Homo sapiens: one gene and its partner. The protein of the gene in region 2 purifies or fractionates together with the protein of the main gene of each other region. This does not show direct contact. Each region holds a gene or a part of one and is shown on either strand. Other genes may lie near its edges.

Region 1 (7,031 bases), on a different chromosome or scaffold from region 2:
CAATGTTTATGTGTTTAATGAGCTCTGGAGAGGACAAGAATGATACAGCACTCATCTTATGAATTGGTGGCCTCCATATTCTTCCCATAAAACAGTAATTCCCAACCTGGCTGTACCCTAGAATCATCTGAGAGTTGTTTAATAAATAACAATCTCTGGGACAGTCCTCAGAGATTCTGATTTAATTGGTCTGTCATGAGACCTCAGCATCTTTTTTGCTTGAGTTCCCCTGGGGTTTATAACATACAGTTGGGTTGAACACCACAGCCAACAGCCATCTTGTTTAACCCAGCAGTGTTTGAAAGAAAATGTCATTCACATGCTTTTAGATATCTGCTTTGTACGTTTATATTACGCCACAAAGCCCACACCAGTCTCTCTGCCCACCACATAATGAGAACACAGTGATTTTTGTGGAATGAAGCCTTCATGTAATGCAAGCAGTTTGAGTCAGACTGTTTAGTTCAGGTCTTCAAAAAAGATTTTAAAATGAGTGTTAGAACACAAGACATTAACACCAGAGGGTCTACAGGTGATCGATCATACTGGTGGGCGGCTAAGGTTTCAGATAGTGAGTGCTACACTACTTGTTTTTGTTTCTTAATTTTAGGTCTGAAAGCTAATAACATTGACTACACAGTTCATTCAGTCAGAAGAGCTCTAGAAAACACTGCAGTGAAGGCTGACAATATAGAAGTATTTGCTCAAGGACATGGTATTATTCAGGTATTGTTGCCTATATGAAAAATGGGTTGTAAAGCATCATTGAGATAATATCTTAGATATTATTGGGTAATATTTTGTTTTATAACAGTGATTCAGTATATCTGAATTATGGATTATATGGCCATAGAACTACAAGCAAAAAGGATACACAAACAAATTTTGTAGTTAAGACAAATCTGTTGCACTAAGATCAAGAAATGTAATAGATGGAGGCCATGTAGAGGTTAGAAATTCAAAGAAATCGAGGTCAAAAACTGGCCAATCATAACGGCATAGGGATTAGTTCCTAAATTTGGTCACTTGAGAATAACAGTGTGAATAGAGTGGAGTGGAAGATGTGACTGGTGTTGTTTCTAAAAATGTAGAATTGTCCTCTTAGTTGGGGTACTAGGTAGTTTTGAGAGGTGAATATAGACACTAACTTTTTGTTTTACAACTGAAATCAAATTGATTGGTAATTTGCAACAAAATATTTTTTGACCCAACCATTTATATCTTACCATGTATATTATTTTCACTAGGTTGATAAAGCCTATGACTACCTCGTTCAGAATACATCATTTGCTAATAAATTAGGTTTTACTGTTACTGTTGGAAATAACCGTGGCATCTACCTCCGAGATCCTGTTCAGGTGGCTGCACCTTCAGATCATGGCGTTGGCATTGAACCTGTATTTCCGGAGAACACAGGTCAGTAATAGGCTGGCAGTAAGCTGACGTATTCACATTTGCTGTTTGAATGAGTGGTATCATAATAAAGAATTGCTGTTTGGGCCAGTGTTGTGAAGAGAATACATGAATTGACAGTATGATTATTTTAAATCTTAGTCATAAGAGAAAATATTAGAGCAATTTGGGGTCCTTGTACAATGGCAATTTAGTTAGCATCTTAAACTACCAGGGAAAACAGTAGAATGAGCCTCAGTGACCCACAGCTTTATTAAATTGTGGATAATAAAATATCAAATTTCTTTTCCACTTTACCTACTTAGGTATAAGACAGAGCTTTCTGTTGAAGAATGAAAAGTAGAAGCAGTCTAGGAGAACTGCAGCTCGATTAGGTGTGAACAAAAATAATCATCGCTATTATCTGGCTGTCTTCATTTCAGTTGAATACTATGACCTGTGTGCAGTAATGAAAACATTCACTTAAACTCTTTATTTTAAGGTCATACCAGTGCTTGGTGAAAGTATAAATGAATCATGAGTAATCTAAATTGTAAGGAAGATTATTTGACTGTTTTATTTAAGCTGTGTTTTGGATGCATTTTACAGCCAACCAAACCAAGTCGCTAAATTTTTTTGGAAAGATGTAACATTTTTAAATGGAAAAAAGGAAAAAAATACTCATCTTTAATTTTTGGTCTTTTTCGTGCCAGAAAACTCTGAAAAAATATCCCTTCAGCTTCATTTAGCTCTGACTTCAAATTCATCTTGGGTTCAGTGTCCCAGCCATTTGGAACTCATGAATCAATGTAGACACATAAACATACGTGTGGATCCCAGGGGCTTAAGAGAAGGATTGCATTATACAGAGGTATTGATGTATCTTCATTTTTACTTTCTTCACTCTTTAAAATGTTTAAAAGGTTAAAAAAAAATCCAAAGTATATTTGCAATATATTGCTTTCTTGCTAAGAAATAACTAGACCTATCCATCTGCCAGGTTATTCAGTTCTTCTGGTGTGTCTATATTCATTTAAGCAGTGAGTTTCTAAAGAATCATATTTTGTCCTTGTATGAATAAGTAAAAGGAAAGAAGAGGTACAGCAGAACCTTTCAATTAGATCTCCCTCTAACTGGTGTTTTCTTTTGTCAGCTAAACAAAGCTGCAGTTGCTTGTTGTTGTTGTTGTTGTTGTTTTAAGAGACAGAGTCTTGCTCTGTTGCCCAGGCTGGAGTACAGTGGTGTGATCGTGGTTCGCTGCAGCCTTGAACTCTTGGGCTCAAGTGATATTCACACCTTAGCCTCCTGAGTAGCTAGGACTAGTGGCGTGCACCACCAAGCCTGGCTAAATTTTTTTATTTTTGTAGAGACAGGATCTCTCTATGTTGCCCAGTCTTGTCTTGAACTCTTGGCCTCAAGTGATCCTCCTGCCTTGGCCTCCCAGGGCTTTGGGATTACAGGTGTGAACCACCACACCCAGCCAGTTATACCTTTTAGTACTCAGATGAAGAAAGCATCTGTTAAACAAATAGTTGTAAACCAGGCATAGAATAGTATCACAACAGTATCTCCACATCTAAAGTTGTCTGTAGTACTAGTTTGAGCTAATTTTTCAGTTGGGAGTAATTAAAATGCACTTATTTTGTACCTGACGTCTCATTTTCCCATTTCAACTGGTCAAATGTTGCTATACATTTGTTTGGGCTGTTTGCTATTAATTATGTGACCTAGTGTCAGGAAATTGGTGTCAACCTCTGGTTAAGACCTTGATTAAAAGTAGATTGATTTATTCTGTCAGTAGTTTAGACCTTCCCCCGCTCTTTTAAACATTTGTTTATGGATATTGACACTTACCGATTCTTTTTTCAAGGTATGTGGCTATGATATAGCATCCCCTAACGCAGGTCCGCTCTTCAGAGTTCCGATCACTGCAGTTATAGCAGCAAAGTAAGTAACAGGTTACTCACAGCTTACTGGTACATCTAAGATTTTAATGACTATTCATGGAGTCTTGTGGACTTTTAATGATCACTAATACAGAACCAGGTAATGGGGATTTTGTCTTAGTTCTGCTCCCAGCTAGCATTTTTAGGTGTCATGTAGTCAGCCATACTGACTCTTGTGTGCTCTGAGAGTAACTGATGGCACCTGGCATCTGCCCTACCTCTGCATCAAAACTATTTCCACCACAGTCACTCTGAGCTCTGCATTGCCCAGTTCAGAGGATAACTCAGGCTTCGTCTGACCCGATCCCACTGTAGTATTTGACAATATTACTTCACTCCCCTCCATTCCTGCCCTTTTTGTCTCTGTCGTTTTTGGGATTTACTCTCTTCTCTTAATGCTTCCACTTTTCTAGTTATCTACTGTAGAAGCAGAAGTTAAGAAACTCTTAACTTCCCATCTTATTCCTCTGGAACCAAGGAAAAATCAGCAGATTATATTACTTCCTGCTTAAAGTATATCAGTGGCACCTCCAAAGGTCAAGTTCAAGCTCCTTAAAATAGCAAACAATGCTCCCTCACAATTATAGCCCTAGCCAGTGTTTCCTGTCATTCCGTACACCAAATTACACATTTTGGCCAACTCACTGATTTTGGCACTTGAGGATTCTCAGGATTTGTGCATGTGCACAGCTGATAACTTGGTTTCAATTTCCTGTCTCTTCAGTTAATGACCAGGTGCATTCCTGGTCATCCCTGGGTGAAGGGAGTCCCTTCTTTCTGCTTCGTGGCACATTTTACGTGCCCCTGGACAGACTTTAGCCAATATATTGTAATTTTTTATTTAACTTACACTCTTTCACTGTGAGCCCACCGAAGGCACAGAGACTACTGTTATACAGGATGTATAAAATAAATTATCTAGTGGATGAAGGTGAGATTGGGATTGTGAGAGTACTGGAAACCAAGTGGAAATTCTAAACTAACAGTTCTGTTACTCTGGTAAATATTAAGTATGCAATAGATCTCAGCCCATGAGAAACACAGGATGAAATTGAGGAGAATAAATTTAAAAAGTGGTATACATGTGGAAAAATTGTGCAACAGTTAAATTCTCAGCCGTATATTCCCTCGAAGTCCAGTAGTAATTTAGACCAGGTAATGTGTAAGACCTTCAGGAGTCAGCTGCCACGCCATCTCCTTCAGGAAGCTTCCCAGGCTCCGTAACTCTTCTTGTCTATCTGGAGCATCTTATGTTAAATGTCTCTGATGATGATTCTCTCCATGCTAGATTGTCTAGGTTAAAGAATCATATTTTCTTCTTTGTTACGTTTCTAGCTCCTAATAACAGGGCCTCATGTAGTAGGCACTCATTTAACCGTTTGTCCTACTGACAAGAATTTGTCTCTAGCATAAAATTTGTTTCCGTGGTGGGTAGTTATGCATTTGAACTTTATTTCATTGATTTCTTACAAAAGTGCTTTGAAAGTAGTTTGCCTTTCTTTACTGTTTTACATCATGGGAGTGTTTTGAAGCTACAGGAGGAGCTTAATTTAACACAAGTCTCATAGCTATAATACCAGTGACATAAAACTTTATCATTGATTTTAATATCTAGGACTCACTGTAGTTTGGAATCTGGTAATTGGAAAATTCTGTGAATGTTGTAGAATGCCTTTAACAAAAAAGAGAATGCTTTTTTAATAGTGTGTGTGAATGTATCTTACAAATCATAAAATAGGCAAAAAGTAGAATCATCTATACTCTGCTATTCAGAGGTTATCTCTGCTAACCTACTGCAAAAATTGAACAATATCGTACCTACTGTTTTGTAACCAGCTTCTAAGTCCCTGTGTTTATTTCCAATGAATTGTTATTTTGCGTTTATCCAATGAAATCTAGAGTATCTGTGGTCTTATAATAAATATATACATTTAATTACTTTTATTAATTTTCAGAGTAAATGAATCATCACATTATGATCTAGCCTTTACAGATGTACACTTTAAACCTGGTCAAATTCGAAGGCATTTTATTGAGGTTCCTGAGGGTGCAACATGGGCTGGTAGGTAAAATTAAAATCTGTGTGACCGCTTATCTCTGTTTACGTTCTAATGACTATAGCTGTATGAGGTTCGTTTATCTGTAGCATGTATTTCCCTGGTACTAATATATGTATTTGGGTACCTTAGACTTTCTGTAAAGTTCAAAACGTTTTTAAGATCTAGTACAATTTTGCATTGGCCCATACAGGAAATTAAGCCATCTTAAGATGTTTTTAATATTTAAGGTTTGAGCTTAGTTTAGAATAATGCCTTACCTGGTAATAATTTTTTTTTTTTTTTTTTTTTTTTTTTTGAGACAGAGTCTCACTCTGTCGCCAGGCTGGAGTGCAGTGGCATGATCTCGGCTCACTGCAACCTCCACCTCCCCAGTTCAAACGATTCTCCTTCCTCAGCCTCCCGAGTAGCTTGGACTAGCAGGCGTGTGCTACCACGCCAGGCTATTTTTTGTATTTTTAGTAGACACGAGGTTTCACCATGTTGGCTAGGATGGTCTCGATCTCTTGACCTCGTGATACACTCGCCTCGTCCTCCCAAAGTGCTGGGATTACAGGCATGAGCAACTGTGCCCGGCCTAATTTTTAAAATACTACAAATCAGTTTAAACAATGCAGCTGTTGCTTAAACCTCAAACTGTTAAACTCTCAGAATTTTAGAAATAGAGCTTTAATCTTTGAAGCTCTGTTTATAGAAGATTTTCACTTCAGTGTCTCTGAAATTTTGAGAGTAAATGATTGCCTAACACAAAGCTCTTGAATTAACATGTTATAGTCCTGTGAGAGTGCTCATGTCATTCTTTTTTACAAGAGCTGTGGGTGTACCATATTTTCCTTCACAAGTTGTGTGTCCTAAATTTACAATTTAGCAGTCAGTATAGAAGGGTATGTCAGTTGTCAGAGCTCACTCCCATTGATAGAAGGAAGCAAATACGGGCAGTCAAGAAAGTGTCACCCAATTTAAATTAGTAGCCAGCATTGTTGATACTTCTTGGATTTGGCCCCTCTGCTAAGCACTTTACAGAGATTATCTTGTCTAGTCCCGTCAGAACCCTATAAGGTAGATAGGTGTCATTAGTAAAAATGGCTTGTATTTTACTTAGGAGTGTGTTTTTTGTACTTGTATGAAAGTACAGATATATTTACATCTGAGACTTTATTGAAAATGAAATATTGAAATCACACATGTATGACTTGGTTTGGGAATAACTGGTTGTATTTGGTTCCCCATACCATTTTCTGGTCATCTATCTGTATGCTGTCCATCTGTTTGTCACCTGGTATCACAGGAAATACCAGACTTTTCTTGTTTTTTGTAATTAGGTAAAGGCAAAATAATAGCAAAAGCTGAGAGCTAAAGCAGTGAATTGAACAGCACCCAATATAGCCTGTTAATTTGCACACTGGTTTATAATGGAGCTATTGCAGCAGTGAGAGGCTTCTGAGGATAATCGGGTTGTACTACACTCATTCATTAAGCATATTTTTCTGTACCATCTGTGCCAGGCCCTTTTCAGTGGGCTAAGGTGGTGAGCTACTTAGACAAGGACCCTGCTTCCAGAGGCCTTGAGAGCATCTAGTCCAAGATATTGCAGTTAAGAGAACTGGATTAGAGGGAGGCAGCACAGAGTAGCGGC
Region 2 (5,454 bases):
CACTGTAGGGAGTGGGGGTGCCTGCAGCAGCACCTCGACTGCCCGCCTCTTGGCCTCAGCTTGCTCTAAGACCTTACCCATCAGGAAGTGCTTGCATGAATAAGTGAGCCAAAATCTTCCTCCCTATGGCTCTAGCATCCCTCCAGGCTTTGCATTCTGTGTCCACACACATCCTGGAAGAACACCAGAGTCTCCATTCCCCCAACCCCCTTTCACCCATGGGATCTGGAGATGTCTTTTCCACATCCAGATGTCTCGTGTGCAGTGGGATTCCTAAATCTGGAGCTCAGGGGGAGGTGTGCACTGAAGACAGACCTTCGGGGTCATTAGCACCTAGAGGGTCTGTGACACCTGGAGAATGACTGGCTTGCTGAGGCCAGTGGTTCCCAGCCTAGGCTGCATACTACAATCATCCGGAAATCCAGTGAGCGTGGATGCCCAGAACCCACCTACCAGACTGATGAAATCAGAGCCCCTGCGTGTGGGCCCAGGCATGGGCATTTGATTTTTAAAATTTTTTATTTTCTTGGTAGATCACTCACAGAACATGCATGGACATTTTTACAGGCTTTCAGGAGATTCTTTGTGTAGCAGGGTTGAGCTACACTACATCTGAGCCTAGGACCCTGGGAAGAACTCAGAGAAGGCAGCAGTAGAGGCTGGGAAGGAGATTGTTATGAGGTAGGAGGAATAGCAAGTAACGGGGGTGTTTCAAGAACCAGAGCCGAGTGCTGCTGAGAAGTCAAAGTCCTTGTTGCTTTTGTTTTGGAGAATAAGGTTGGTGACTCTAATAAAAGCCACATAATGGCATCATGGGGATGAAGGAGAGTTAATTGAGGGGAGAATGGGGGTGAGAAAGTGGAAATGAAAGTAATCAACAACTCTTTTGAACAGTTTTTGCTGTGAAGAGGAACAGAGAAACAGAGGTGGCCGAAGAGGAATGTGAGGTCAAGGGAAGGTTTAAAATGTGAAATTACAGAGCATGTTTGCGTGTGGCTGGAAAAGCTGCTGGTAGGATGAATGGGCGCAGGAGAGAGTGGGGACAGCTCAATTTTCCAAGCTCTGAGGTGAAAGGAGCCGGGATCAGAGCACAGCTGGGGACAGACACTGTTTCTACTGTAGGGGTAGGAAGAAGACAGATGGATGCCAGTACACTTGCAGATACGGTGGGAGAGCCCGACCTGTTTCCCCAATATGCCTGTGAGGAGACATTGGGTGGGGATAGACAGGAGGTTCTGGGGAGGAGAAAAGCTGCCCTACTAGGGAACAGGGTCTCTTGTGGCAGGGAGTGCCTGCCTTGCACTGTTAAGAAGGATGCAGGCAGTCTGCTTAAATGGATTTCTCTGGCTGTGGGCAGCTGTGTGCAGGCACTGAGGAGGTCTGGGCTCGCCCAAGGCCGGGGACTTTGCCAGACCAGTAAGATGAAACGAGAGAGAACAGGGGGAAGGGACTATGGAGAACAAAGAGGGGATGGTGGGCAGAGGCCTCGAAGAGCCAGAAAAGGGTCCCTGCAGGTCGACATGCCTAGGCAGGGGCGGTACTGGCCGCACTAAAGGAAGTGAGCTGGAAGGAGGTGGCGGCCAGAGGATGAGGCTTGGACAGGAGAGAGCAAAAATTGTGTGTCCGTCATGAAAATGAGGTTCAGGATGTGCCAAGGGTGTGTGCAGCTGAGGTGGAGTTGCGGTGAGGGGCTGGGCAGTCAGAGCCCTGGAGGCATGACGCTTGCGTGCGTGGCTGGCTCCTAGGATGGCGCCAGGAGCAGGAGCAGAGGAGGGAACGCAGCATGGAAGTCTTCAGGAAACTTCTCTCCCCCTGGAATGTCGGCTCCCGGAGAACAGGACCAAGGCTGTCCTGAACACGGCTGTGTCCCCCAGCGCCTGGCACTGAGTAGGCACGCAGCAAACTCTCATCAAGGATTATGCCTGATACGTCATCGGTTCTCTCTCCTTTACAGATGAGGAGACTGACGCCTGGGGTTCCCAGAAGTATCTGCAAATTGTTGGAGTTTCAGCAGGGAACAAGTGTTTTGGACGAGGGTGTCTCTGAAATCCCTTCCACCTGCACCCCGCCCCCACTGCCTCCTCCCAGCTCGGGCCTCCGGGTCTCCAGTTGGGCCCTCATGTTGCTCCTTCCTGAGTCTGACAAGTAAGCCTCACAGCTCCCTCCGCCTGCCTCTTCGTGTCACTCGGCCGTGCAGAGCAACATGGAGTCCTAATGATTTCCATCCCGTCTGTCTGCTGCAGTGGGTTTGAGCCCACGGGTGGCAGGTAAGGCCCAGGTCACCTGTGCCCCTGGAACCGGCACAGGGTGCTTGTGTTGGCCGCAATGAACGTGGGCAGGGGCGTGTGCCGTGAGTGCCCCTGCCGGGAGCTGCTCTGAGCTTTATTATCTGTGAGTCTGCACACTATTCATGAGGAGGGCAGGGCAGGGCTGAGGTCCTCCACAGGCGGCCTGCCTTGTTCCTGCAGGCCAGGGTGGACACAGGCGTGTGTCTGCATGGGCCCAATGTTTGCCCACCAGCCCACCCTCCTGTCCCAGGGGGAGCACCTCTCCCCTCTGGCCACCACTCTGCTGGGCGTTCAGGGCCGGTCACAAGGGGCTGGGCCCTTCCTCCGCTCACGACTCAGCAGGGTCACCAGCTTGGCCTTGAAACCTGCCTGAGGGTCAGGGCGGCCTGTGCCCTCCACCTGATCCAGCTCCAGCAGCCGCCGGTACTGGGCCTCCAGGGTACTGTCGTTGGCCGGGCCGGGCCAGCTCAAGTCCTGGCCGTTGTGGTAGATGGGACTGGTTGTGGGGCTGCGGCTGCCGGGGCCCTCGTGCGGCTCAGGTTCCCCACCGTGCAGCGTGGGGCTGGCCTCCAGCACACACAGGTTCTCATAGAGGTGCTCATTGCCTGGGGGCCCACTGGCACGCTTGCACACTGAAGCGTAGAGCCCGGACGCCAGATCGTTGGGCTCCGGGCCTAGCAGTAGCGGCAGGCTCTGGGGTCCGGGCTCGGCCAGGTGCATTTTCCTGGACGTGGGTGGCTCAGGTCCTGGTGGCATCTCCCGAAGCTCTCCGGGGGTGTCCAGGGAGGGCAGAGAGGTGGCCCGTGGCAGGGGGCAGGGCTGGGGCCTGGTCAGCTCTGGCAGCCGCTCCCGCTGGCGGGCGATGGCCCCGGCCACAGCCCTGCACAGGTCAGGGGCACAGGGGGTGCTGAAGGCAAAGAGGCCCTCACCCGAGTGGCAGCGACGGCCGGCCTCAAAGGAGAACACGCCCTGGGCACAGGGCACACGGGTGGGGATTAGCAGGAGGGTCCAGGGTGTCAGCCCCTCACCCTTTCCCACCCCTGCACCTCACCTTGTCGGAGCCGAACTTGCGCAGGAAGTGGTAGGGCCAGCTGTAGAGGGCCTGGGTGCCCTTGGCCTCCCTCAGCTGGATGGCGTCTGGGCCCAGCACCAGCAGGGCCGGCCCCTTCAGCTGGCAGCGGGTGGCGGCCTCAGTCCTCTGCACCACCACGGGAAACTCGCCCACTGTGGCAGGTGGCCAGGACAGCTCCGTCAGTCCCAAAAAGACCCAGCCCTGGGTGTGGGGGGCTGAGGCTGCCCTTGCACGTCCTCCAACTTACCTTCCTGCCAGGAGGAGTAGATGGAGTTTTCCTCCATGGGGACCAGGCCCCTCTTGGGAGACTGGGCATCTGTGGATCCTGAGGAGGCCTCCCCTGTCCCCTGGGGAATGAGTTCAAGTCAAAGGTGAGAGCACCGCACTCCCATGCCCTGTCCCCTCCCCTCAGTATCCCAGAACTCCACAAGCCAGGGGGCATCCAGGGGCCTGGGCTCCAGTTCCAGCTTTGCCCGGCTCGCTGCATAAGCCTAGGTCCCCTTCCGAGCCTGTTCTCCCACCTGGCTCCCCACTGAGAGTGCTGGGCTGGGCAAGAGGCACTGTGCTTGAGGGTGTCTGAGAGCTGCAGATCACTGGGGACACAAAAGGATGTCCCTTGCAGCCCCTGGGCTTGGCTGGGCCAGCTTCTGTATGTCTGACAGCCTAGAGCAGTACCCCAGGTGTCTTCCTCCATCTCACCACAGCCACCTGCTATGACCCTGCAAGGTGCCCCCAATCTCTGCCTCATCCCCACACCCAGGCCTTCAGCATGTCCCCTGTGCTCTTTCCCACTCAGCTCCTCTACTAGCACCACCCTGGCCCATAGCAACACAGCCGGGTCAAATGCCACAGCTTCCTCACCAGGCTCCTTGCTCCTGTCAACTGCCTTTTTTTTTGACATGGAGTCTTGCTCTGTCACCCATACTTGAGTGCAATGGCGAGATCTCGGCTGACTGCAATTTCCGCCTCCCGGGTTTGTTTTTTTTCTTTAAGATGGAGTCTCACTCTTGTCGCCCAGGCTGGAGTGCAGTGGCGCGATCTTGGCTCACTGCAAGCTCCGCCTCCCAGGTTCACGCCATTCTCCTGCCTCAGCCTCCCAAGTAGCTGGGACTACAGGTGCCCGCCACCAGGCCTGGCTAATTTTTTTTGTATTTTTAGTAGAGATGGGGTTTCACCATGTTAGCCAGGATGATCTCGATCTCCTGACCTCATGATCCGCCTGTCTCGGCCTCCCAAAGTGCTGGGATTACAGGCATGAGCCACCGCGCCCAGCCCGCCTCCCGGGTTTAAGTGATTCTCCTGCCTCAGTCTCCCAAGTAGCTGGGATTACAGGTGCCCACCACCATGCCTGGCTAATTTTTTGTATTTTTAGTAGAGACAGGGTTTTACCATATTGGGCAGGCTGGTCTCGAACTCCTGACCTCAGGTGATCCACGTGCTTCGGCTTCCCAAAGTGCTGGGATTACAGGCACGAACCTCCATGCCTAACCTCAACTGCCTTTTGTTTTTTGATTTTTAAAATATGATAAAATACAGAGAACATAAAATTTACTGTTTTAACCATCTTACTTTTTTTTTTTTTTTTGAGACAAAGTCTTGCTCTGTCGGCCAGGCTGGAATGCAGTGGTGCGATCTAAGCTCACTGCAACCTCTGCCTCCCAGACTCAAGCAATTCTGCTGCCTCAGCCTCTCAAGTAGTAGCTGGGATTACAGGCGTGTGCCACCACACCCAGCTAATTTTTGTAATTTTTTTTTAGTAGAGATAGGGTTTCACCATGTTGGCCAGGCTGGTCTCGAACTCCTGACCTCAGGTAATCCGCCTGCCTCGGCCTCCCAAAGTGCTGGGATTACAGGTGTGAACCACTACGCCCGGCCCATTTTACATCTTAAAGTGTATCATCAGTGCTCTTTTTTTTCTTTTCTTTTTTTTTTTTTTTTTTTTGAGACGGAGTTTTGCTCTCGTTGCCCAGGCTGGAGTGCAATGGCATGATCTCGGCTCACCGCAACCTCTGCCTCCCAGGTTCAAGCAATTCTGCCTGCCTCAGCCTCCCGAGTAGCTGGCATTACAGGCATGCACCACCATGCCCAGCTACT

The links. The genes of interacting proteins can lie anywhere in the genome.
Region 1: the proteins of DOK3 (region 2) and TPP2 purify together in Homo sapiens (affinity purification with mass spectrometry; 4 studies listed by BioGRID and IntAct, with this or other methods). This does not show direct contact.

The regions. Positions count from the first base shown.
Region 1 is NC_000013.11:102,634,977-102,642,007, forward strand, and holds part of TPP2 (tripeptidyl-peptidase 2), read left to right. Parts: intron 1-610; coding exon 611-726; intron 727-1,247; coding exon 1,248-1,416; intron 1,417-2,105; coding exon 2,106-2,263; intron 2,264-3,262; coding exon 3,263-3,339; intron 3,340-5,293; coding exon 5,294-5,400; intron 5,401-7,031. UniProt on the Homo sapiens protein: Cytosolic tripeptidyl-peptidase that releases N-terminal tripeptides from polypeptides and is a component of the proteolytic cascade acting downstream of the 26S proteasome in the ubiquitin-proteasome pathway.
Region 2 is NC_000005.10:177,501,404-177,506,857, forward strand, and holds the end of DOK3 (docking protein 3), read right to left. Parts: intron 3,708-5,454; coding exon 3,608-3,707; intron 3,513-3,607; coding exon 3,340-3,512; intron 3,258-3,339; coding exon 2,580-3,257; 3' UTR 1,990-2,579; coding exon of another isoform or gene 1,642-1,989; 3' UTR 501-1,641; downstream 1-500. UniProt on the Homo sapiens protein: DOK proteins are enzymatically inert adaptor or scaffolding proteins. They provide a docking platform for the assembly of multimolecular signaling complexes. DOK3 is a negative regulator of JNK signaling in B-cells through interaction with INPP5D/SHIP1.